Regions from separate parts of the Homo sapiens genome. Here all the other regions are linked to region 1. Evidence: fine-mapped expression QTL. A gene starts in region 1. Each other region holds a variant in brackets. All regions are shown on one strand. Distances are between the middles of the regions.

Region 1 (6,038 bases):
CATGGTGTGACCCTGTCTCTACTAAAAGTACAAAAAATTAGCTGGGCATCGTGGCGCATGCCTGTAATCCCAGCTACATGGGAGGCTGAGGCAGGGGAATTGCTGGGACCCAGGAGGCAGAGGTTGCAGTGAGCCGAGATGGTGCCGCTGCACTCCAGCCTGGTGACAGAGCAAGACTCCATCCCTAAATAAATAAATAAGTGCCATTAGCGTGGGCCCTAATCCAACATCCTTACAAGAAAATTGGGACACACGGTGGGACACATGGAGAGACACGAGGAATGTGTGCACAGAAGAAAAAACATGTGAGGTCTCGGGGAGAAGGTGCCATCTTCGAGCTAAGGAGAGAGGTATAAGAAGAAACCTGGCTGGGTACAGCGGCTTATGCCTGTAATCTAAGCACTTTGGGAGGCTGAGGTGGGTGGATTGATTGAACCTAGTAGTAGTTAGAGACCAGCCTGGGCAACATAGCAAGATCCCATCTCTACTAAAAATACAAAAAGTTAGCCAGGTGTGATTGTGAGCACTTGTGGTCCCAGCTACTGAGGAGGCTGAGGTGGGAGTATCACCTGAGCCTGGGAAGTCGAGGCTACAGTGAGCCACGATTGTGCCACTGCACTCCAGCCTCGGCGATGGGAGTGAGACCCCAGTCTTTTCTTTTTTTTTTTTTTTTGAGACGGAGTCTTGCTCTGTCGCCCAGGCTGGAGCGCAGTGGCGTGATCTCGGCTCACTGCAAGCTCTGCCTCCCGGGTTCACGCCATTCTCCTGCCTCAGCCTCCCGAGTAGCTGGGACTACAGGCACCCGCCACCACGCCCGGCTAATTTTTTTTTTATTTTTAATAGAGACAGGGTTTCACCATATTAGCCAGGATGGTCTCGATCTCCTGACTTCGTGATCCACCTGCCTCGGCCTCTCAAAGTGCTGGGATGACAGGCGTGAGCCACCGCGCTGGGATGACAGGCATGAGCCACCGTGCTGGGATGACAGGCGTGAGCCACCGCGCTGGGATGACAGGCGTGAGCCACCGCGCCCGGCCAAGACCCCAGCCTTAAAAGAAAAAAAAAAGAAGAAAACAAAGGAGAAACCACGTCTACTGACACCTTGATCTGGGATTCTAGCTTCCAGGACTGTTAGGAAGTAATTCCAGGCCGGGCATGGTGGCTCATGCCTATAATCCCAGCACTTTGGGAGGCTGAGGCGGGTGGATCACGAGGTCAGGAGATCGAGACCAGCCTTACCAACATGGTGAAACCCTGTCTCTACTAAAGATATAAAAATTAGCCGGGCGTGGTAGCGCACGCTTGTAATCTCAGCTACTCAGGAGGCTGAGGCAGGAGAATCGCTTGAACCCACGAGGCGGAGGTTGCAGTGAGCTGGGATCGCGCCATTGCACTCCAACCTGGGCGACAGAGGGAGATCCGACTCAAAAAAAAAAAAAAAAAAAAAGAAAAGTAATTCCAAACCACCACCCAGTCTGTGAGAGATTTTGTTATGTTATATTTTCTTATAACTGAGATAATTATTACAGTTAAAGAGATCGGACTTAACTGAACCCATCTTGCTTCTAACCTCCAAGCTGTCCTTGTTCATTCCTGGGTGTAGGCTGAAATAACTTCGGGAGGCGCTTAGTTTATAGTTTAGCTTTGAAACAAAGATGGTAACAGCCCTTTGCAAAACAAACTCCCTTCCTACCTGGGGACAAGACTGCCTTTTCAGGACTAACAAATTAGCCATAAGATTAGAAATTATGGTTTAGGAGTCATGTAGCTGGAGGCTACAAGATTCTAAACCTCCCAAATTGCTTCTCAGGATAACATCACTATTAAAAAACAGATCAGCGCTTGAGATATTTTGCAGACTCTGCACTCCATGGATCAGCTGGCACCACCCAGATTGATAAACTGGCTCATATCTTGTGGCCCCCACCCAGGAACCGACTCAGCACAAGAGGACAGTTTTGACTCCCTATCATTTCACCTCTGACCCAACCAATCAACACTCCCTACTTTCTGACCCCATACCCACCAAATTATCCTTAAAACCGCGGATCCCCAGCCGGGCACGGTGGCTCACGTCTATAGTCCCAGCACTTTGGGGAGGCCCAGGTGGGCGGATCACCTGAGGTCAGGAGTTCAAGACCAGCCTGACCAACATGGAGAAACTCCGTCTCTACGAAAAATACAAAATTAGCCAGGCATGGTAGTGTGCGCCTGTAGTCCCAGCTACCCGGGAGGCTGAGGCAGGAGAATCACTGGAACCCAGGAGGTGAAGGTTGCAGTGAGCCGAGATCGCGCCACTGCACTCCAGTGTGGGTGACAGAGTGAGATTCGGACTCAAAAACAAAAAAAAACAAAAAACAAAAAACTCTGATCCCTGAATTCTCAAGGACACTAATTTTTTTTGAGTAGTAATAAAACCTCAGTAACCTGTACAAGCTGGCTCTGTGTGAATTAAACTCTTTATTGCAATTCCCCTGTCTTGATAAAGTCTAGGCAGTGGGCAGGGACAATATGTTGGGTAGTTACAGTGGCACCCTGAGCAAACTAATACAATTACTAACATAATTTAATCAATTAATGTAATTTAACATAGTTTAAAAAAACTGTCACAGTAATTGTGATGTTGTGAAATATGTATACATTTAGTCTTCCGGTTTCCTGGTATCCAACTCCAAAAATCCTTAGAATCTGTGAAGTGACGTCTTTTTTTTTTTTTTTTGAGATGAAGTCTCACTCTGTCGCCCAGACTGGAGTGCAGTGGCACCAACTCAGTTCATTCTAACCTCCGCCTCTTCGCTTCAAGAGATTCTCCGGCCTCAGACTCCCGAGTAGCTGGGATTACAGGTGCCCGCCACCACGCCCAGTTAATTTTTGTATTTTTAGTAGAGACGGGGTTTCACCACGTTGGTCAGGCTGGTCTTGAACTCCTGACCTCAGGTGATCCACCTGCCTCGGCCTCCCAAAGTGCTGGGATTACAGGCGTGAGCCACCGCGTATGGCCTAATTTTGTATTTTGAGTAGAGACGGGGTTTCACCATTTTGGCCAGGCTGGTCTCGAACTTTTGACCTCAGGTGATCCGTCCACCTTGGCTTCCCAAAATGCTGGGATTACAGGTATGAGCCACCGCGCCCGGCCTGAAATGCAGTTTAAACTCGTTTGTTTTTCTTATGTTAAATTTAAAAAATACTTAAAAAAAAAAACATGAAGGTGTGATCCTGCCTTCCTGAAATTGTTTCTCTACTTACCTGTGCATGGAGAGAAGTTTGGAATGCTGTTTCCCCAATTATAATACGCTATAATACGCAGCAGTAGTTATTTTTGGGTGAGACTTCGGATGCTCGTCTTTGCTTCCTTTTTGGACTTTCCTGTGCCGCTTGGGTTTCCGAGGACGAGCAGAAGTAATCTCAGACGCAACTTTCCAAAATCCCCTCCTCCAGTTGCAGGGATGGCGGGGGCGGGTCAGCGGCGCCGCCCTGCGCATGCGTCGAGCCGTTGGTGGGGCCGGAACCTGGTTTCCCGGCCTCGCGCCCGAGGGGAGCGTATTGAGCGAGGCACCGGGACGTCGGCGGCTGGCGGAGCCGGGCGGGCGAAGCTGGAGCGGCGGTGGCGGCGGCGTAGGGAGGCCGGGGCCGGGGCTGAGGCCGCGGCCGGGTCTGCGAGGCCCTTGGGGCGGCAGGCGGCGGCGGCCCGGGGCTCGAGCCCGGAGGCAGGAGCAGCCGCCATGGCCGAGAGCATCGTGAGTGCGGCGGCCGGGCGGGAGCGGGGACGCCGGGATGAGGCAGCAGATTTGCCGGCCTCGGCCTGTGGGGGAGGCGGGCCTGCCGGCGCCGCGACTCGGCCCCTTTCTCTTCTCTCGCCAGGGCTTTCTCTGTAGTGGCTGGGCCCCTCTCGGGGACTTTCACCCCCCTCGGCTGCTTCCCGTCCGTGTCCCTCCCCAGGGGACTTACGACCCCGGTTCCCCGCCCTGGGCAGGGAAAGGCCGAGCCTTTCTAAGCAGGGAGAATGGACTGTGGCGAAGAGAAACCGCCCTCCTTCCCCACCCGTTTCCCGGCTCCAGGAGACTTCCTGGTCTAATTCCAGGGACTCCCAGCCAGTCCTGCCCCTCTCAGAGCCAGGGACACCTCTTATCCTAATCTCCCTCTGATTCTCTCCTCCTGCTCTCCCGCTTCCCAGCAAGTGCCTTGTCATGAGTCACTAAGGAGAGCAGCTCTGCAGACGGGGACGTTACAGAGCTCCCTCCCCACCAGAAGACCTGGGAAAATGAAAACACAGTAACTTGCCGGCTTTGCTCCTTACTTGGAAGGACAACTTGACAATTCCTCTTTAAAAGGAATGTTGTAAATGATGTTGATTTCACTTTTTACCTGAAATTGAAATTGTCGGCCCGGCGCAGTGGCTCACGCCTGTGATGTCAGCACTTTGGGAGGCCGAGGCGGGTGGATCACCTGGGGTCAGGAGTTCGAGACCATCCTGGCCAACATGGCAAAATCTTGTCTCTACTAAAAATACAAAAAATTAGCCGGGCGTCATGGCGCACTGTAATCCCAGATACTTGGGAGGCTGAGGCAGGAGAATTGCTTGAACGCGGGAGGTGGAGGTTACAGTGAGCTGAGATCCCTCCATGGCACTCCAGCCTGGGCTATAGAGCGAGACTGCGTCTCAAAAAAAAAAAAAAAATTGTCACACACTCCTCCTTAACGTAAAAAATATCAGTGACAAATCAGAAAACCAGTCCCTCGTTAAGTTGTGAGAAGTTTCTTCCCAAAAGTAAATGTGATGGGAAAAAAACTAACTGACCATTGGACAGGAGCATTTTGGTTAATATTAAGGAAGATTTGGGATTTCTGGGGGAAGCTTAGCAGTATTGGGTGAAGAGTAATGTTCATACTGTAGCATTGTGACAGTCTCTGCAGTTTTGCCAGGTGTTGTCTAGAATAGGTCTCCAGGCCCGGCGCGGTGACTCACACCTGTAATCCCAGCACTTTGGGAAGCCCAGGTGGGTGGATCACCTGAGGTCAGGAGTTCAAGACCAGCCTGGACAACATAGTGAGCCTAGGTGGCGTCACTGGACTCCACCCTGGGCGACAGAATGAGACTGTCTCACACACACAAACAAATGGGTCTCCAGGAGAACCTAGCACTTATTTGCAAGGCTGTTCTCTGGTGGTTCCATCATCTCTCCAGTCAGGGGCCCTCTTGGTGCCTCCATGTTTCCCAACCTGGAGATGAGTGGAATGAATATATGGCCCAGGAGAAACTTAGGAAACGTCGACTCCTTTTTTTTTTTTTTTTTTAACCTTATTTTATTTTTTTGAGATGGAGTCTCACTCTGTCGCCCAGGCTGGAGTTCAGTGGTGCGATCTCTGCTTACTGCAACCTCCGCCTCTCGGGTTCAAGAAATTCTCCTGCCTCAGCCGAGTAGCTGGGGTTGCAGGTGCTCGCCAACACGCATGGCTGATGTCTTTTTTATTTTTAGTGGTGATGGGGTTTCACCGTGTTGGCCAGGTTGATCTCGAACTTCTGACCTCGTGATCCGCCCGCCTTGGCATACCAAAATGCTGGGATTACAGGCATAAGCCACCGCGCCTGGCCTTTAAATCTTTTTAATTAAAAACATTTTTTTATAGAGATGAGGTCTCTACTATGTTGTACAGGCTGGTCTCTGAGCTCGAGGGATCCTCCTACCTTGGGGTCCCAAAATTGCTAGGATTACAGTCCTGAGCTACCATGCCCGGCCAAGAAACCTTTGACTCCTTTGAAAAATAAAATGTGGCCATGCAGTGGCTCACGCCTGTAATCCCAGCACTTTGGGAGGCCGAGGTGGGCGGATCACGAGGTCAGGAGTTCAAGACTGGCCTGACCAACATGGTGAAACCCTGTCTCTACTAAAAATAAAAAATTAGCCGGGTGTGGTGGCATGCACCTGTTATCCCAGCTACTCTGGAGGTTGAGGGAGGGGAATCGCTCAAACCCGGGAGGTGGAGGTTGCAGTGAGCCCAGATTGCGCCACTGCACTCCAGCCTGGGCGACAGAGCAA
Region 2 (5,000 bases), 50 kb before region 1:
TCATCAAAGGTGCTTGTTTTCCTTTCCCGAGCCCCCTAGCCACTCTAAAGGCCCTCAAGCCACGTCTCCACCTCGCCCTGCAGAGACAGCTGCTACGCCTCCGCCCAGGACACACAGGCATCCTCAGGTCCCAGACAGACGAGAGCTCAGCCACCAACCCTCAAACAAGCCGGGCTCCCAGCACTCCCCTTCACGCTTCCTGAGCAGCCCGACTCCAGAACCCCTGGCGGCCGCCCACACTCACTCTCTCGGCAGCAAACATGGCATCGCTCTCTTTGAATTCTGGAAAGACGTGCCCTGGAGAGATGAAGCCATAGTCACTGCCTGCTCCCACCTGGCCTGCAAGACTTCCGGGAGCCCCTTCCTCACTCTCGGCAGCTGCAACGCAGCAGTGACCGTGCACCCAAGTGAAGGTGTCTGGGGGCACCGAGACAGCCTCCTGCCCCCAAGATTGGGTGTCCCCATGGGGCCTCTGTCCTCACTGTGGCGGGAGACAAGAGCCAGGCCCTGCTGCCCTCTTCCTGAGACACTGCTCCCACTCCATCAGGGCATGAGGCCCCTGCGTGGCCCCGCCTGCTGAGTGGCTCCCTCACCCTCTGCTCTCTGGCCAGGGCTCCCACTGATCCTGAGGACAAGACCTTGAGCTATTCTTGACACACGACCCCAGAAAAAATCCAGGAGAGCTCCCACCCCAGGAAGGAGACAGGAGCACAGACCACCAGCATCCACCACCCCAAAGTTGAGGGTCCAAGGCAGCTCGTGCAGCGCCCCCTGCGTTCTTCCCGTGTTCTCCACACTGGTCCTGCCCACCCTGCAGCCACAGGGCAAGCGTCCAACTCCTGCAGCGGGGACGCACCACCCCTGGAGCCTGCCCCATTCCCCACGCTCTCAGCCTCGTCTTCAGCAGACTCAGGGCCACAGAGAACCCGCACAGATGTGAGCAGCCATGCCCACCTCTCTCTCACTGAGTGGGCCCTGAGCACCAGCCAAGACTCCCAAATGCATCCTGAAGCCCCCACCTCTCTCTACACAATCCCCTAGTTCTCCACGGCCACAATGGCCGAGAGGGACCCTTAAGAAACACACCTTGGCAGCCACGACCTAGACGAAAACCCACCAGAGGCCTCCTGCTGCGCTGACAGCAACCCTGAACTCCAGCCCAACAGCCTGGAGGCCCTCGGCGCACAGGCCCGGCTGCACTCTCCTCTGGCACGCTGGCCACCTTTCTGCCCTGGGGCCTCAACCCTGAGTGTCTGCCCACGGGTGCTGCCTGCCTGCTCACGCCGGCTCTGGCTTCTGTTCCAGTCTCGACACTTGGGACAGCTCCTTCAGAGGCCTTCCCTGACTGCACAGCCCAACCCGGCCCCCAGGAGTCCTGCCACTCTGAAACAGGCTGTCTGCTGCCTTTTCACCTGTGTGTTGTCTGCCATCACTGCCTGCCCCTGCCCGTGGGCCGTGGGTCCAGAAAGGCAGGAGCCGGTCTGAACCCGCCCTCACATGCACGGTCTTCCCTGGCTCCAGGCCACCGCCCTCCTCCCTCCCAACACAGGGAACAACCCATCTTCCCAGGCCCCTCGCCACTGTGCCCGTTGAGCCTGACTGCCCAGCAGTTCCAAGCCTCAACCTGGTCCCAACCTCAGTCCTGACTCACCCTCCACCTTCATGATCTGGTAGGTGTCCTGGACCACCTTGTACTTGGGCTCGTTCCGGAAGGCATGCGCCCAGGCCTGGATCAGGTACAGGATCTTGTTACGGACGTTTACCTCCACTTGTCTCTGCAGGCAGGGAGAAGGGGGTGAGGGTCGCAGGACACTCCAGGCGCCAGAGGCCTCGGTGTGAGGAAGCAGCTGGCAGACCTCAGCCTCTGAGCAGATGGGGCTGACACAGAGGCCAGGGAGGGCCCCCCGAGTGGGGCGTGGGGGCCATGCACCAACCTGTTCCCAGACCCTGAGTTCAAACCTCACGCCTGCCTCTACTTGCTGGAGCCAAACAACGCCGCGTCTCTGTGCCCCTGACCATCTGTCTCTCCCTTTCCCCACGGGACCTGCCCACCCCAGGATCCCCGGTTCCCGTCAGCCTCCAACAGGCAGGACCCGGCAGGCCTGACGGTGGCAGCGTGGTGTTGGGGCTGAGAACACAGGGGTACTGCGGGGCTCTGGCCACGCCCCTCCTTCCAGTCACAGCCGGGGAGACGCGGGGGGCAGCCGCTCCAGAAATGCCTCCAAATTCAGAGCGGGCTCCAGACCCCCTGCAGCCATCCTCTCCCCCGGTTAGAGCGCAGCCTGGCCTCGCGTCTACGGCCCTCTCGGGGACGCCGTCCCGGTGTGACGTGCAGGACGGCGTGCGATCAGAGGCTGCTGCAAGCAGGCTCCGGGGCACTTGCACCTCAGCCTAAGCTCCTTTCCAGAACCCCTCTGCATCCTCAGCGGCGCCTTCCCTTCACAGCCCTGCCTCACCCCAGAGGAGCGAACCGGCTCAGGATCTGCAGCCTGACTGAAGGAGCTCAGGAGCACCAGGGTCGGGCAGGGCCAGACTCCGGCACCTTCCGCCTCTCAGCCAGGACAGGACGGGACAGGAAGCCAGCCAAAGTGGCCAGTGAGGGCCTTTGAGAGGCCTGGCTGTCCACCGGGATCCCCGGGCAGGTTCTCAGCTGTGTGAGTCCAGGGAGTCTCCTATGAGACCCAGGTCTGGCCCACAGGT[T/C]GGGACAGAAGGGGAGCAGCCTGACTACATGGGACACTCTTTCTCCTTGACACCTGCAACAGCATCCCCACTGCATCACAGTCCACATCACAGTCCCTGCAGGTGTCCCCAGCACAATCCCTGCAGATGTCCCCGGCACAATCTCCTGGGGATCTGGAGGGCTTTTCCTCCTCTGCCCAGGAAAGCATGAAGCCCTCGCTCTCCAAAACAGCTCTTATCCCCGCCAGACACATCCGATCTTACAAGCCCCCGCTCAGAGCCCTCCCAGGCCCCTGCCTGTGGGATGTGGCCAGCCTGCCCTCCGGACCACAGCCACTCTCACACACGATAGCCACCACCTGCCCTGCCCACCCAGTGGCATCTACTCACCTTCCCTAAGACAGCAGGTGCCCAAGCCCTGCCTCCCGGAAGCTTCCCCCAGGCCCCAGGGTCGCTGTCACCTTGGTCCTCCAGACACAGCACCCCAGGCCGGCTCCTGCTAAACCCTGACCTCCCTGGATTGGGGCTCACGGCCCTGTCTCTCCGACTCATGAGTGCGAGCTTGCGCAGTGCAGGGACCACCGATCTGCACCTGCACATTTTCCGCCACACCTGGTGCTGTTCTGTCATCAGTGCCCAGTAAACACCCGGAGAAGCAAAGGTGCCAGCCTGGGTGGCCACCCGCATGCCCCCGTCTCACCCACCTTCAGCAGGTCCTTCAGCTCCTCCATGGTCTGCTTGTTGGCCACCTCATCATGAACTGTCTGGCCACAGTTCTTTACCACAGATTCCATGACCTGCAGATGCCCAGGAAGGGAAGGGTTGGGCCAGTGGTCAGGGCAGGGCCCCTCCTCCTCCCGGACAGACCCACCTCCCTGTGGGACAGCAGAGCCCTTCGACAGGCCCGTCAGTGGCCGGTGGGGAACCCGGTGGGACAGCAGAGCCCTTCGACAGGCCCGTCAGTGGCCGGAGGGGAACCCGGTGGGACAGCAGAGCCCTTCGACAGGCCCGTCAGTGGCCGGTGGGGAACCCGGTGGGACAGCAGCCCTTCAACAGGCCCGTCAGGCCAGTGGGGAACCCACATCTGAGACTCAGCAGCCTGCACAGCACCGCTCCGTGACGCCAAGTCTCACTGCCAAGCACAGCAATGACATCCGCCTTCTGGTGTTTACTCACGCAGGACCGGCTGAAGAAGTGGTGCCCACTCCCTCCCCTATCTCCTGTCTCTCCCTCAGCGTGACCCTCTCCTAGGTGGCACTGTTCACACAGGCACTCAAGGCTGAGTGGAAACTCTCCTGCTTGATGTATGCCCAGGGAGGTGGGCAAGGCCACAGGACAAACTCTTCTCATGCTGTCGTGACTAGTAGGGGGTAGGGACCCTGGGGGCCACTGAGGCACGGGGGTCTGCTTACCTCCAGGGCATACAAGGCGACGTGTGGGTTCTTGTCGTTGACTTTCTTCTTGATGGAATTCACAGCATATTTTGCTCTGAAAAGGAAACATTGATAAAAGCAGAGAAAAACGGGAAAAAAATAGTCTCAGCAACTAAGATGAGAAAAGCTCATCTGCTGCCAGGTGCAGTGGCTCACGCCTGTAATCCCAGTGCTTTGGGAGGCCAAGGCAGGAGGATTGCTTGAGCCCAGGAGTCTGAGACCAGCCTGTGCATTACGGCAAAAACCCATCTCTACCAAAATACAAAAAATCAGCCGGGCGTGATGGTGAATGCCTGTAGTCCCAGCTACTCAGGAGGTTGAGGTGGGACGATCGTTTGAGCTTGGGAGGCAGGGGCTGCAGTGAGCTGAGATCACGCCACTGCACTTCAGCCTGGGTGACAAAGCAAGGCCCCGTCTTAAAAAAAAAAGTCTGTCTGCCATCTTAGTCTTTGAGAACCCCGAAGCAAATACAAACATAACCAGGTATCTGCAAGCTGTACAGAGAAAACCCCTTAATCCTCCAAGATGTCAAAAAATCCTAGCATGTAGCCCATGCAGTTCTCCACATAAGAGCCTAACACGGTCAGCTACGTCGTGGAGACCCAACGGGCACCAAGCGAGCCCAGCTTAGTGCACGGCTGCTCCTCCGCATCAGGGCACAGGCCCCGCTAACTCACTGTGTGTCCCCTTGGCGGATCAGGTCGCAGATCTGCAAAATGGACTCCCAATCTGTCTCCAACAGGAGCTGGCTGGTCGCCTTGTCTGAGAGAGAAAATGCCATGAAAGGGAGGGGTTATCCTGCTGGACGCCCCGTGCAGCACCCCAGCTTGGCAGCAGCTGGGGGGGACTCTCTCCTTCCCCTTTAGACATTTGGACCAAATGAAAAAG
Region 3 (6,038 bases), 79 kb before region 1:
GCTGCTGGCTGGTAACAGGTGACCACAGGTCTGCAGGCACCAGCCAGGTCAACGGCCACCCTGCCTGCTCATGCGGTACAACCAGGGCCCGAGGGTGCAGCCCGGGGTCCAGTGGGCAGAGGGGGCTGTGAACAGAACCATGAGAATCAGGGATGCAGCACGGCAGCGTCAGGGAGAAGAAAAGGGACAGAGCTATGGGCTCTGCAAACGTGGAAGCCCCATGGAGTTGGCGGGGGCCCAAGACAGGAGACCCAGAGCACCTATGAGGCACAGACTGCCATGAACGGCACCACCTCTGTTAATCTGTGAAAGAAATGTTTTTGGCCGGGCACAGTGACTCACACCTGTAATCCCAGCACTTTGGGAGGCTGAGGCGGCAGATCACTTCAGGCCAGGAGTTCAAGACCAGCCTGGCGAACATGGCGAAACCTTGTCTCTACTAAAAATACAAAAATTAGCCAGGAGTGGTGGCACGTGCCTGTAATCCCAGCACTTTGGGAGGCCGAGGCAAGCGGATCACCTGAGGTCAGGAGTTCAAGACCAGCCTGGCCGACATGGTGAAACCCTGTCTCTACTAAAAATATGAAAAATTAGCCGGGCATGGTGGCGGGCGCCTGTAATCCCAGCTACTTGGGAGGCTGAGGCAGGAGAATCGCTTGATCCCAGGAGGTGGAGGTTGCAATGAGGGGAAAAAAAAAAGAAAGAAAAGAAATGTGTTTTTTTTTGTTTTTTGTTTTTTTAAGACAGAGTCTCGCTCTGTCATCCAGGCTGGAGTGCAGTGGTGCAATCTCGGCTCACTGCAACCTCCGCCTCCTGAATTCAAGCAATTCTCCTGCCTCAGCCTCCTGAGTAGCTGGGATTACAGGCGTGCGCCACCAGGCCCAGCTAATTTTTTTGCATTTTTAGTAGAGACGGGGTTTCACCATGTTGGTCAGGCTGGTCTCCAACTCCTGACTTGTGATCTGCCCGCCTTGGCCTCCCAAAGTGTTGGGATTACAGGCGTGAGCCACCGTGCCTGGCCGAAAAGAAATGTTTTAAGACAGTCTCACTCTGTCACCCAGGCTGGAATGCAGTGGTGCAATCTCGGCTCACTGTGGCCTGGACATCCTGGGCTCAAGGGATTATCCCACCTCAGCCTCCTGTGTAGCTGGAACTACAGGCATGCACCACCAAGCCTGACCAATTTTGTTTTGTTTTGTTTTTTTGAGACAGTTTCACTCTTGTGGCCCAGGCTGGGGTGCAATGGTGTGATCTCGGCTCACTGCAACCTCCGCCTCCCAGGTTCAAGCGATTCTCCTGCCTCAGCCTCCCGAGTAGCTGGGATTACAGGCGCACGCCACCACACCCAGCCAATTTTTTGTATTTTTAGTAGAGAGGGGGTTTCACCATGTTGGCCAGGCTGGTCTTGAACTCCTGACCTCAGGTGATCTGCTTGCCTCGACCTCCCAAAGTGCTGGGATGATAGGCATGAGCCACCGCACCTGGCCCCTAATTTTTGTAATTTTGGTAGAGACAGGGTTTCAGTATGTTGCCCAGGCTGGTCTTGAACTCCTAGACTCAAGCAGTCTGCCTGCCTCAGGCTCCCAAAGTGCTGGGGTTACAGGCATGAGCCACTGCGCCGGGCCAAGAAGTCTTCTCTAAAAACAAAAACAAGGCAAAGGCATTCAAAGGCACAACCCTCTCCCAAGGCAAGTGCTGTGCAGAGACAGGCAACTAGAAGGGAGGGACACCCTTCCCCGGGTCCCCAGTGCGAGTGTCCACCCCCCGGAGAGGTGAGGGGACTCGCTGGGCTGTGCAGCCCAACTGCACAGGCAGGGCCCCACTCACCTGATACTCCCCCTTGGAGTTCATCAGGCGAGTCTTCAGCACATCCAGGGGCTGGCACAGGAACGTGGCACATCCACCCTGAGGAGGGGGCTCGTCACCAGCGGCCTGTCAGGTACGCCAGGCACCATCGCCGAATCCCACCCACGTGCCAGAACCTCCACCTGACTCCTAGGGCGGGCCAGGAACATGCTGGCGGGGGCACCAGGCTGACCCATGAGCTCCCAAAGCCCTGGCACCCCACTTATGAGCCCCAGGGGGCACTGCCAGATGCCCAAGGCCCCCGCCTCCCCCAGCCCTCGCCCCATCCTGGGTGCCCTCAGCGCCCAAGGCCGGCCCAGGGACGCCCACCCTAGCCATGCCGGCCACTTACTGCAATAAAGCTGGCGACAAAGTGAGTGAAGATGTTGTCAGAGAGGTACCCGGTGCTAAGGACCAGCTGCTTGGCCTGGTCGTAGCAGGACAGCTGCAGGGGCACAAGGGCGGTCAGGGCTGTAGGGGGGACCCCAGCTTGGGGAAAGCACACAGGGCCCCAGGCGACACCACCTGGCAATGGCCAAGCACCTGCTCCGTCTGTCCGTCCGTGAGGCCCAGACAGGGGAGGCACCTGCCCGAGGTCCTTCACAGGCTGCAGCCCTGACCCACCCGTGCCCCCCACCCTGCCCCACAAGGTCACAGCTGGTGGCTCCCCAGGAGGGTTTTGGCGCCCAGTGCCTTGTTCTATGGCCCCTCTGAAGATGGAGGTCAGTGGTCACAGGCACTGCCCACACCCACCCCACGCAGGAGGCCTACCTGGCCCACAGTGACTAAGGCCCCTCGGCTGGATGCCATGGTTGCACCCGAGAACAGTCTCCTGAGACCCTCTGCACAAGGAAGGGGTGAGGCAAGGGGTGAGGC[A/CAGGGGTGAGGCA]AGGGGTGAGGCCAGGCACCTGGCCCAAATCCCTCAGCGCCCAGTCTTCTACAGCGCTGCCCACCCTGCCTGCCCCCCAGAACCCTGCCTGTGCACAGCACCTGCCCCTCACCTTCACGAGCTACGCGGTACAGGCCATCCAGCGCATGGGCGTAGCTGCCGGGGACACAGAATGACCACATGAGACTCCCCCTGACCACCGGCTCCCACAGAGGGTCCTCCCAGGCCCCGAGGCAGGCCGGGGGTTCTCGAGGAAGCAGAGGCCTCATGGGCCTGAAGATCTCTCCCTGGGAACATGAAGCTGGTCCTGACGTCCCACAGCCACCTCGCCCGCCCCGCCCGGCCCTCAGGGAGGAGGTTCCATCGTTTCCAACAGAGTCCCTGGCTGGGCACCGCTCCTAGCATGCAGGCCTCCTGCCCGCCAGCCCCCGGGGTCCTGGGGGAACACAGTCTGTGTGCACAGCTAGAAGCCAGAACTCCCCAGGGGTCCTTGGAAGGGGCGGGGGAAGTGGCTCACACTGCAGTTGGAGCGGACCCCGGGCCCTGGAAAGACCCCAGGCCGTGGCAGGAGGGCACAGCTGCCCTGAGCTGGGCAGGGAGGCAGCGCCTCCTTCGGGCGTTTCTGTTGCATGCGCTCTCTCCATGCCTGGGGCGTTCGCCTCCGCACTCACCACCCTGGGGTGCAAACAGGCCCAGCCCCCAATCCAACAAGGCTCTCCCCACAGGAAGAACCCAAAGGTCCTGGGGGCGCAGAGTGACACCCCCGAGTCCAGAACAGCCGTCAGGACCCTCCATGGACCGTGCAGGCACCTCGGCCTGCTGGAGCCTCAGCTGGGTCACGGCAGAGCAGCCAGGGGTCCGCTCCCGCCCGAGCCTCCTGCACCTCAACCACCCCGAGAAGGCCGCCCATGACTCACTTGCGCCGCTGACCCTGGGGCAGCTTCACGTCGTTCTGCATCCTGAAACAGAAGCAGGTGGCGGGAGGGGCGGGCGGGCCGAGGGGCATGGGCAGCCCTGGCAGCACAGGGGAGCTCACGCTGGTCAGCGGGGCCCACAGGACAGGGCACGCCGGGGCTCAGGGACACCCACCCTCCTATGCCCAGGACACCAGGGTCTCAGTGGCTTATTCCAGGCTGACCCCACCCTGCAAGCAGCCCTGGCAGGCCCTGGCATGTCTGGGGACAAGAAAGCCCCTGGCCTTGCAGGTGGGGTGGGGGAACACCAACCTGACGTTGACCAAGTCTGCGGGCGTCCCCACGAAGCCTCCAGCTAAACCTGCGGTGACACAAACCCCAGAGATGAGCCGTGCTGACACACGGCGTCCTCGGCCGACCTGACCACCCCGCGCCCCTCCCCCTCCCGCCCGGCAGCTCACCGCTGACGGAGCCCAGCAACACCTTCTCGTGGAAGGGGAGAGGCCCCTGGCTGCCCTTGGCCACACGGTCCCGCACAGTCTCGTAGATGGCGAACCGAGTCAGGGAGTAGGTCATCTGGGGGAGAAGGGCCTGGCTTGGAGGGACGGGCACGCCCCACACCCCTCAGCCTCGCCACCCGGCCCAGCCAGGGATCCCCCTCAGCCCGAGGGGCCACAGGGACCCTGAGGGGCCTTCCCAAGGCCACTGTGCCAGCATGCGGCTGAGCCAGTTCACAAATCTAGAGCTGCACCCTGCTTTCTCACTCCCTGGGCCTCAGCTTCCCCACCAGTAAGTGGCGGTCTCAGGCCCAGCCCTGCAAACTGGGTGGGTGCCCATGGGAGGCGCACCCTGGGGTCACCAGCTCTCGGCCTGGTGGGTCCTTCCTTGCACAAAGTCTTGAAAAGGGGACGGAAGTAGCTTGGATGCCACTGCAGGACTCAGCCCCAGTCTGGGAGCCCAAGGCTGGCACACACCACGCACCTGTCTGCACAGCGAGGCGCTCAGGCCGCTGTAGAGTGCCAGGATGCCGTCGGTACGCACCACCCGCAGCGCCATGCCCGTCATGCGCAGCTTCACCTCCTGCTGCGTCTGCAGATGCACCTGCGGGAGTGAGTGCTCTCAGACCCCACAGCGACCCCGAGGGATCGGTGCCAGGTTCATCCAGAGAGGGGGAAACTGAGGCAGGAGGCAGTGATAAGGCCTCCCACGGCCCTGCCCGGGGACTCCACACCCGTGCCTGGAACCAGCTCACACCACTGCTTTCCAACAGCAACCACACCAGTGGACATGGAGCTGAGAGTGTCCGCGAGCCCCGCGAGCGCCCCGCGTACCACCTGAGTATTGGCTGCACTGGCCGCAGGGGCTCGCCATTCTCCTTCTGCAGATGAGGAAACTGAGGCATGGAGAGGTAACGCACCCGCTGGTGCCATCAGGATTTGGGCCCAGCGAGGAGACCCCAGAGCCCTACTTTTTATCCACCACACCACGTCTCAAGAGGGACAAACGTTTATGGCCGCTCAGAAACGGCGAGGGAGCCTGCAGGACCATGGGAGACTGAGGAGGTAGCCATAGAAGGCCTTGAAAGGCAGCAGGAGCTCAGCAGCAGACAAGGGGACGGTGTGGCTGGCGGCAGGGCATAGCGGCCTCCTCTGCAAAGCACCTAGGAGCTGTGGGCAGGCACTCGGGGGCTGTCAGCCCGACAACCTCCCATTCTGTTGGCCTCCACCACTCACAGGACCTCTGCCTCCTCGCCTGGCCAGCTGAGAGCTCCCGGCAGTAGGGGGATTGGCCAGGGCCAGACAGGAAGGCCAGCACCTGGCCCAGGATCCCAGCTCCTGGGTCCCACCCCCAGCACTGACCCCAAAGAAGTCCTTCCGCCGCTCAGTGTGACCTGCACGTGCGCGGCCCCGTAACGCACGCCCAGGGGTCGGCAAAGATGGGTGGGGACAGAGAGGGGCCTCCCATTGTGCGAGCCCAGCAGAACAGAGGGACTGGGCCACACAGGTAGCAGCCCCCGTCCCGGCCAGATGCGACGGTAGGGACTGTAGGGACATGGGACAAAGTGCTCAAGAAGCTTTAAAAGATCTTTCCGACGGCCAGGCAGAGAGGCCTGGTGAGCAGTCCTCAGGAGCACACCCTGACCACAGCGCCATATGCTGCCAGCAGCTGGCTCCTCCCGCCCTCCCAGGCCAGAGGGCAGTCCCGCCTCCCCCAGGCGGTGTTCTGCAGCCAGAGAGCGCCTGGTTGGGGAGGGCCAAGGGGCAGTGGGGCTCAGACCCCGGACAAGGGACAGCAGCACGCAGGTCCCGCCTTCAACACCCAGATGAACGTGGGAGAGGCCCTGGGGGAGGGGCACCTGTGCGGCGCCCAGGAGGAAAGGAAGAGCCCGATGCCAAGGAGGGG
Region 4 (6,038 bases), 39 kb after region 1:
TATTAAAAGTATAATTGAGGCCAGCCGTGGTGGCTCACATCTATAATCCCAGCACTTTGTAGGGGCAAGGCAGATCACTTGAGGCCAGGAGTTCAAGACTAGCCTGGCTGACATGGCAAAACCCCGTTTCTACTAAAAATACACACACAAAAATTTGCTTATGCAGCTTATGCTGCCACATGTCATTAAACAACTCCTTTTCCTTAGCTTTTTCTCTGAGTTTGTGATTTAACCTACGTTCTGGAGGTATTAATGACCTCCATATGGGTAATACCCAGCAAACGTAAACTTCTTTGTGGTTTGCCAGATTTTCACTAATTTACAAGGATATGCCCAGTTACTGTAACTCAATTTGAGATTACCTTTACCTTTCCTATTCTTATGGCTGGGGTTTCTGCATAGAATGATACCTTTGAATGACCCGCAAGCTACATTTAAGTGAACATTAATGATTTCGGTAAGCTTGGTCCACTCTGGGAAGTGATGTGCTGTGGTTGGTTTCAGTTGCATGGGAGCCAGTCGAAGCTACAACTCATCGACTGCCCTGTGCCAGATGAAAGGAGGTGGTTGATTTTTGAACACCTTTTCCCTTCCTTAGGGTTGGTGAGCTCATCGCTCTCTGTGGAGTTCATAGTGTCCCTGTAACTGAGTATCTTAGCTGTGAAGCCAAGCATTGTCTCTGCAGGAGTGGCACACAGATTTTCCAAGGCTGTTTTGTGGGAATGGATGTTACCTTACAGTTTGAGTCTTGCCTAATTTAGCCAAACCTGTTTGGAGTGAAGCTACTTATCCAAGGAAGTTTGAAAGTAACTTAATTCCCTGATGAAGGAACTTTTAAAACAGGCAGAGTGTGTAGACCTTGCCTTGCCTTAGTCCTGAGTGCTCCTGATGCAGAGCTGTGCAGCACACATCAGCTGGGCCCTGCATGCCACATGTTTTGCAGCCCTGGTAAAAGGTGCAGCACAACCCGAGAAGGAGAGAAGCCGGGAGGCGTGTCGCATGTGTTTTATCTGTGGCTATAGTTCTCCTTTCTGACAAGGAGGCCCCCAGCACTCCTTGTGACCTAGAGCTGGAAGTGGAAGGGCTTGGGGTGCTGCTTCCTGAGCCCTCTGCTCTAAGTCCATCTTCTCCCTTTGATTCCCTGCAGATTGGTACACAGAACAGCTTGGAGCTTCTTGAGGATCCAAAAGCTGAAGTGGTCGATGAAATTGCTGCCAAACTTGGCCTGCGGAAGGTACTGAGGCATCCGGCAGCCAAGCAGGGGGCGTGGCCAGGCTCTGTTGGGCATCCAGGCCAGGGGGAGTTGGGAGAGTGGCCGGGCTGTGTCGGGTACTGGCTCTCTCCGGCTGCACAAGGTCAGGTGCAGGCACTATATGTTTTGAAACTTCACATATGTTTGTTGGGCACCAATAACCTTTATGTTCCTCTGACTTAAACTAAAATGAGAACATTTTCTTGAGCATAAAAAAAAAAAAATCCCAGTGCAGATCTGGCTGTTATATTTCAGCCTTCCAGCCACACTTCATGAGGACTGCTTCAAGTGGGAAACAGACCCCAGCCGCACCCCTGCTGGCTCCTCTGTGCATGTGTGTCCCTTCTGCCTGAGCTCTCCCTTCATGTAGCTTGGAAGCCGAGGACAGTCAAGGCTGACATTCCATTGACAGTGTTCATGTTCTGTGCCATGCACTTGGAGCTTCTGCTGCTCCGTCATCAATCATCATTTAATTTCCTGTTTATAATTTAGCTCTCTGAGCCTACAATTCTTCCTAGTTTCATGGAACAGTTAGAAGATGAGAAAAGGATTTCCTTTTTTATTCTATTGATCTGGTTTATCTGACATTGATACAGTTCCCAGGAACAATTTTAATAAATTAATGTAGAGCCATGAATTTGAACATATCTTACGAGTTTAATGTTAATAAGTATGTTTTATCCTTTATTTCCTAATCAACTCAGACCATGAAAAATAATCTCTAGATTATTTAATCTTCTCTACAGATGAAGCGGGTGAGACTGCAAATGTGACTTAAAACCTAGTAGTGTCAGTGAGCAGTCCACACAGTTTTACTGTCTTTAGGAAAGAAACATCCTGTTTCTAACAAGGAGTCAGCATCTTGATTTAGGGGCATATTTGGGTTCAAATTCTGGAAGTTCTCTTGTTTAAAAGAGATTGGTCCAATTTTTTGACCTAATTTGTTATAATCTTACAGTTCATAATCTTGAAATTACTTAAATAATTTTCTGCAAGACACAAGTTTCTCTTTTTATTTTATTTTATTTTTTTTTTTTGAGGAGTCTTGCTCTTTCACCCAGGCTGGAGTGCAGTGGCACGATCTTGGCTCACTGCAACCTCTGCCTCCCGGGTTCAAGTGATTCTCCTGCCTCAGCCTCCCAAGTAGCTGGGATTACAGGCACCCGCCACAACGCCCAGTTAATTTTTGTATTTTTAATAGAGACGATGTTTCACCATGTTGGCCAGGCTGGTCTTGAACTCTCGACCTCAGGTGATCCACCCGCCTTGGTCTCCCAAAGTTCTGGGATTATGGGCGTGAGCCACCGTGCCTGGCCTAAAATATGAGTTTCTAAGCCCTAATTTTTCTCAGTTTGATTTTGATTTTGCTTTATTTACTGCATAATTAACCCTTTAAGTTTCATTTTCTCTGTTGCCACCACCTTGGGTTTTTCATTCATTGGGGCATCTTTAAAGACAGTGAAAGTCTCCCAGTGGGCTAGTCATGTCTGCTGGGGGTGGATGGGAAGAGTTGTGTGTCAGGTAGTGCTGGAGAGGGTCATGGGCCGCAGATCCTTCCCGAGGACAGAAGTGACAATTGCCGGGACTCAACTGCTGCTCCTGTGGCCTCGTGACGGGCTTCTGGTGCAGGAATTCACAGGCAGAGGCGGGCCTAAGGATCACACAGCACACAGGCACTGCTACACTGAACGTGCAGGGGTTGCTGGGTCACAGGTTTCAGATCCTCATACCCTCAGATGCTTCCTTCCGGCCTTGAGGTGGAGCTCCCAGGAGCAGCTGTGTGAAGTCTGCATTATATTACCCCTTTTGTATTATGTGCCTTTCTCTAGGAATCCTTTTTCTTAGCTTGTCAGGAAAGACCTACTCTCTGAAATGTTTATTTGCTTGCTTGTTGTCTGTCTTCCTCTTGGGAGTTTAAGTGCCTTTTTCACTCACCTTCTGTTGGTCTCACTCACTGCTGTGTCTCTTGCACCCAGCATGGTGCTGGGCAGAGCTGGTGCTGAGGAAACTCATCTCTAACCCAGCAGCACCAGAGGGAGGGTGGCCAGTTTCTACTGAACAGAGATGGAGATCCCTGGGTGTGGCCTGGCATCTTACTTGAGGAACCTGTTGATGTAGATTCACCTGGCTCACAAAAAGGAGTTTCTGACTGAGAACATTCTTTTTAAGCTCTCTGGGCAGAAGCCAGAAAACATTCATCATCTATCTTTTTTTTTTTTTTTTTTTT[TG/G]AGACAGAGTCTTGCTCTGTGGGCCAGGCTGGAGTGCAGTGACGCAATCTCGGCTCACTGCAAGCTTCACCTCCCGGGTTCACACCATTCTCCTGCCTCAGCCTCCTGAGTAGCTGGGACTACAGGCACCCGCCACCACGCCCGGCTAATTTTTTTCTATTTTTAGTAGAGACGGGATTTCACCATGTTAGCCAGGATGGTCTTGATCTCCTGACCTCGTGATCCACCGTCTTGGCCTCCCGAAGTGTTGGAATTACAGGCGTGAGCCACCACACCCGGCCACGCCCAGCTAATTTTTTTTTTTTTTTTTTGAGATGGAGTTTCATTCTTGTTGCCCAGGCTGGAGTGCAATGGCGCGATCCTGGCACACTGCAACCTCTGCCTCCCGGGTTCAAGTGATTCTCCTGCCTCAGCCTCCTGAGTAGCTGGGATTACAGGCATGCGCCACCACCCCAACTAATTTTGTATTTTTAGTAGAGACAGGGTTTCTCCATGTTGGTCAGGCTGGTCTCGAACTCCCGACCTCGGGTGATCCACCCGCCTCGGCCTCCCAAAGTGCTGGGATTACAGGCGTGAGCCACCGCACCCGGCCTAATTTCTGTATTTTTAGTAGAGATGGGGTTTCACTGTATTGGCCAGGATGGTCTCGATCTCTTAACCTCGTGATTCTCCTGCCTCGGCCTCTCAAAGTGCTGTGATTATAGGCGTGAGTCACTGCGCCCAGCCATTCATCGTCTATCTTGAGGAGATGTTTAAAAGCTACTTTCCTTTTTTTAAGGTTGGCTGGATATTTACAGACCTCGTCTCAGAAGATACCCGAAAGGGTACCGTCCGCTACAGTCGAAATAAGGTGAGGTGGAGACAGGACTGTGCGTGTGGCCCTATGGCTTGGTTACAGATGGTGTTGGCCTGCATTATCAGGGTCTCTTTGCACCGCTGGTTCTAGCTTTCAGGCCCCATTATTTATTTATTTGTATTTTTTGAGACGGAGTCTTGCTCTTTTGCCCAGGCTGGAGTGCAGTGGCGCAATCTCTGCTCACCGCTAGCAATGCCTCCCGGGTTCACGCCATTCTCCTGCCTCAGCCTCAGGAGAAGCTGGGACTACAGGCGCCTGCCACCATGCCCAGCTAATTTTTTTGTATTTTTAATAGAGATGGGGTTTCACTGTGTTAGCCAGGATGGTCTTGATCTCGACCTTGTGATCTGCCTGCCTTGGCCTCCCAGAGTGCTGGGATTACAGGTGTGAGCCACCATGCCCAGCCCTCAGGCCCCATTATTTTTCAAGAAGTTCTTCTTGATCAATGAAGGCCGGATCTCTTGGTCTCATAGAGCTAAACCCATCTTACCTTTATAAAGCAGTGATTTTCAGGGCTCAGCCCATGGCGGGGTGGTTTGCATAGTGCTTCTGGCCTTTCTAGTCGTGAGTGGTTTTAGATGAGGAATTGGTAATGGTTAGGAATTGTAGATACTTGTTTCAAAGTGGTTTTGAGTTTTATAGTTTGGTTCTTATTTTTTATTTTTATTTTTTTGAGACAGAGTCTTGCTGTGTTGCACAGGTTGGAGTGCAATGGCACAATCTCGGCTCACTACAGCTTCCTCCTCCTGGGTTCAGGTGTGCACCACCATACCCAGATAATTTTTTTATTTTTAGTAGAGACCAGGTTTTGGTGTGTTGGCCAGGCTGGTCTCGAACTCTTGTCCTCAAGTGGACCTCCCGCCTCCACCTCTCAAAGTGCTGGAATTAGAGGTGTGAGTCACTGCTCCTGGCTTAGTTCTTATTTTTTAAAGAAGAAATAGAAGTATATTTTGGCATGATGCTGTAAAATTTGATAGGCTGCTTCTCTTGTCTTAGGACACCTATTTCCTAAGTTCAGAAGAGTGCATCACTGCAGGAGACTTCCAGAACAAGCATCCCAACATGTGCCGGCTCTCTCCAGACGGACATTTTGGATCCAAGTTTGTTACTGCAGTGGCTACAGGTATAACAGGGACAGTATGTACTGTAAATATTACCACCTCGTTAATATATTTTGTTCCTCTTTTTGGTAGCTTTTTATCCTTAACTTAGTTATACTGGACTTTCTTACTGGGCTTGTGGGATATAAATTCCTCCTTTCTTTTTATGGTAAAAATTCTGAACAACTTAACAGCATAAAACTATATAAACACAAACCCCAAAACTCATAACAGAATCAGGACCTCCACAGAGCTCTCCTCTAGGCCAGTGCTCTCATTAAAAGTCCACTTTTTTGGCCGGGCGTGGTGGCTCACGCCTGTAATCCCAGCACTTTGGGAGGCCCAGGTGAGTGGATCGCTTGAGGTCAGGAGTTCGAGATCAGCCTGGCCAACATAGCGAAACCCCATCTCTTTATAAATATAAAAATTAGCTGGGCATGGTGGTGGGCGCCTGTAATCCCAGCTACTCAAGGAGCTGAGGCAGGAGAATCACTTGAACCCATCAGGCGGAGGTTGCAGTGAGCTGAGTTTGTGCCAGTGCACTCCAGCCTGGGTGACAGGGTGAGCCTCTGTCTCAAAAAAAGAAAAGAAAAGAAAAAAAA

Alleles and levels. Alleles are on the strand shown, and positions count from the first base shown. SD is a standard deviation of normalised expression in the study named. Not every link is listed here.
For the expression in caudate of the gene that starts at base 3,457 in region 1, CAGGGGTGAGGCA is the high allele of the variant in region 3 and A is the other (small effect, 0.24 SD a copy in GTEx).
For the expression in iPS cells of the gene that starts at base 3,457 in region 1, allele G in region 4 goes with a lower level than allele TG (large effect, 0.83 SD a copy in HipSci).

What was found. PIP is the estimated chance that this variant, and not a neighbour inherited with it, causes the effect.
Region 2: its variant is fine-mapped to the expression of TSPAN10 in cerebral cortex (GTEx, PIP 0.98).
Region 3: its variant is fine-mapped to the expression of TSPAN10 in caudate (GTEx, PIP 0.91).
Region 4: its variant is fine-mapped to the expression of TSPAN10 in iPS cells (HipSci, PIP 0.95).

Annotation. Positions count from the first base shown.
Region 1 is chr17:81,634,615-81,640,652 of GRCh38, reverse strand. It overlaps TSPAN10 (tetraspanin 10), which reads right to left and starts at 3,457. Exons shown (of 4, transcript NM_001290212.2): 1 at 3,247-3,457. It overlaps NPLOC4 (NPL4 homolog, ubiquitin recognition factor), which reads left to right and starts at 3,541. Exons shown (of 17, transcript NM_017921.4): 1 at 3,541-3,737. The coding sequence starts at 3,723. RefSeq lists a silencer at 3,602-3,811.
Region 2 is chr17:81,685,479-81,690,478 of GRCh38, reverse strand. HGS (hepatocyte growth factor-regulated tyrosine kinase substrate) reads right to left here. Exons shown (of 22, transcript NM_004712.5): 2 at 4,790-4,874; 3 at 4,092-4,167; 4 at 3,384-3,476; 5 at 1,652-1,775; 6 at 245-297. Among named protein-coding and RNA genes, the nearest start is that of HGS, 4.0 kb to the right of the region's middle. The variant T/C (reference allele first, on the strand shown) is at 2,701.
Region 3 is chr17:81,713,651-81,719,688 of GRCh38, reverse strand. SLC25A10 (solute carrier family 25 member 10) reads right to left here. Exons shown (of 11, transcript NM_012140.5): 2 at 4,617-4,736; 3 at 4,097-4,211; 4 at 3,948-3,996; 5 at 3,639-3,680; 6 at 2,834-2,877; 7 at 2,617-2,687; 8 at 2,198-2,290; 9 at 1,828-1,905. Among named protein-coding and RNA genes, the nearest start is that of SLC25A10, 4.4 kb to the right of the region's middle. The variant A/CAGGGGTGAGGCA (reference allele first, on the strand shown) is at 2,722.
Region 4 is chr17:81,595,537-81,601,574 of GRCh38, reverse strand. NPLOC4 (NPL4 homolog, ubiquitin recognition factor) reads left to right here. Exons shown (of 17, transcript NM_017921.4): 9 at 1,148-1,234; 10 at 4,259-4,330; 11 at 5,333-5,459. Among named protein-coding and RNA genes, the nearest start is that of NPLOC4, 39 kb to the left of the region's middle. RefSeq lists enhancers at 1-149, 3,037-3,156. The variant TG/G (reference allele first, on the strand shown) is at 3,480.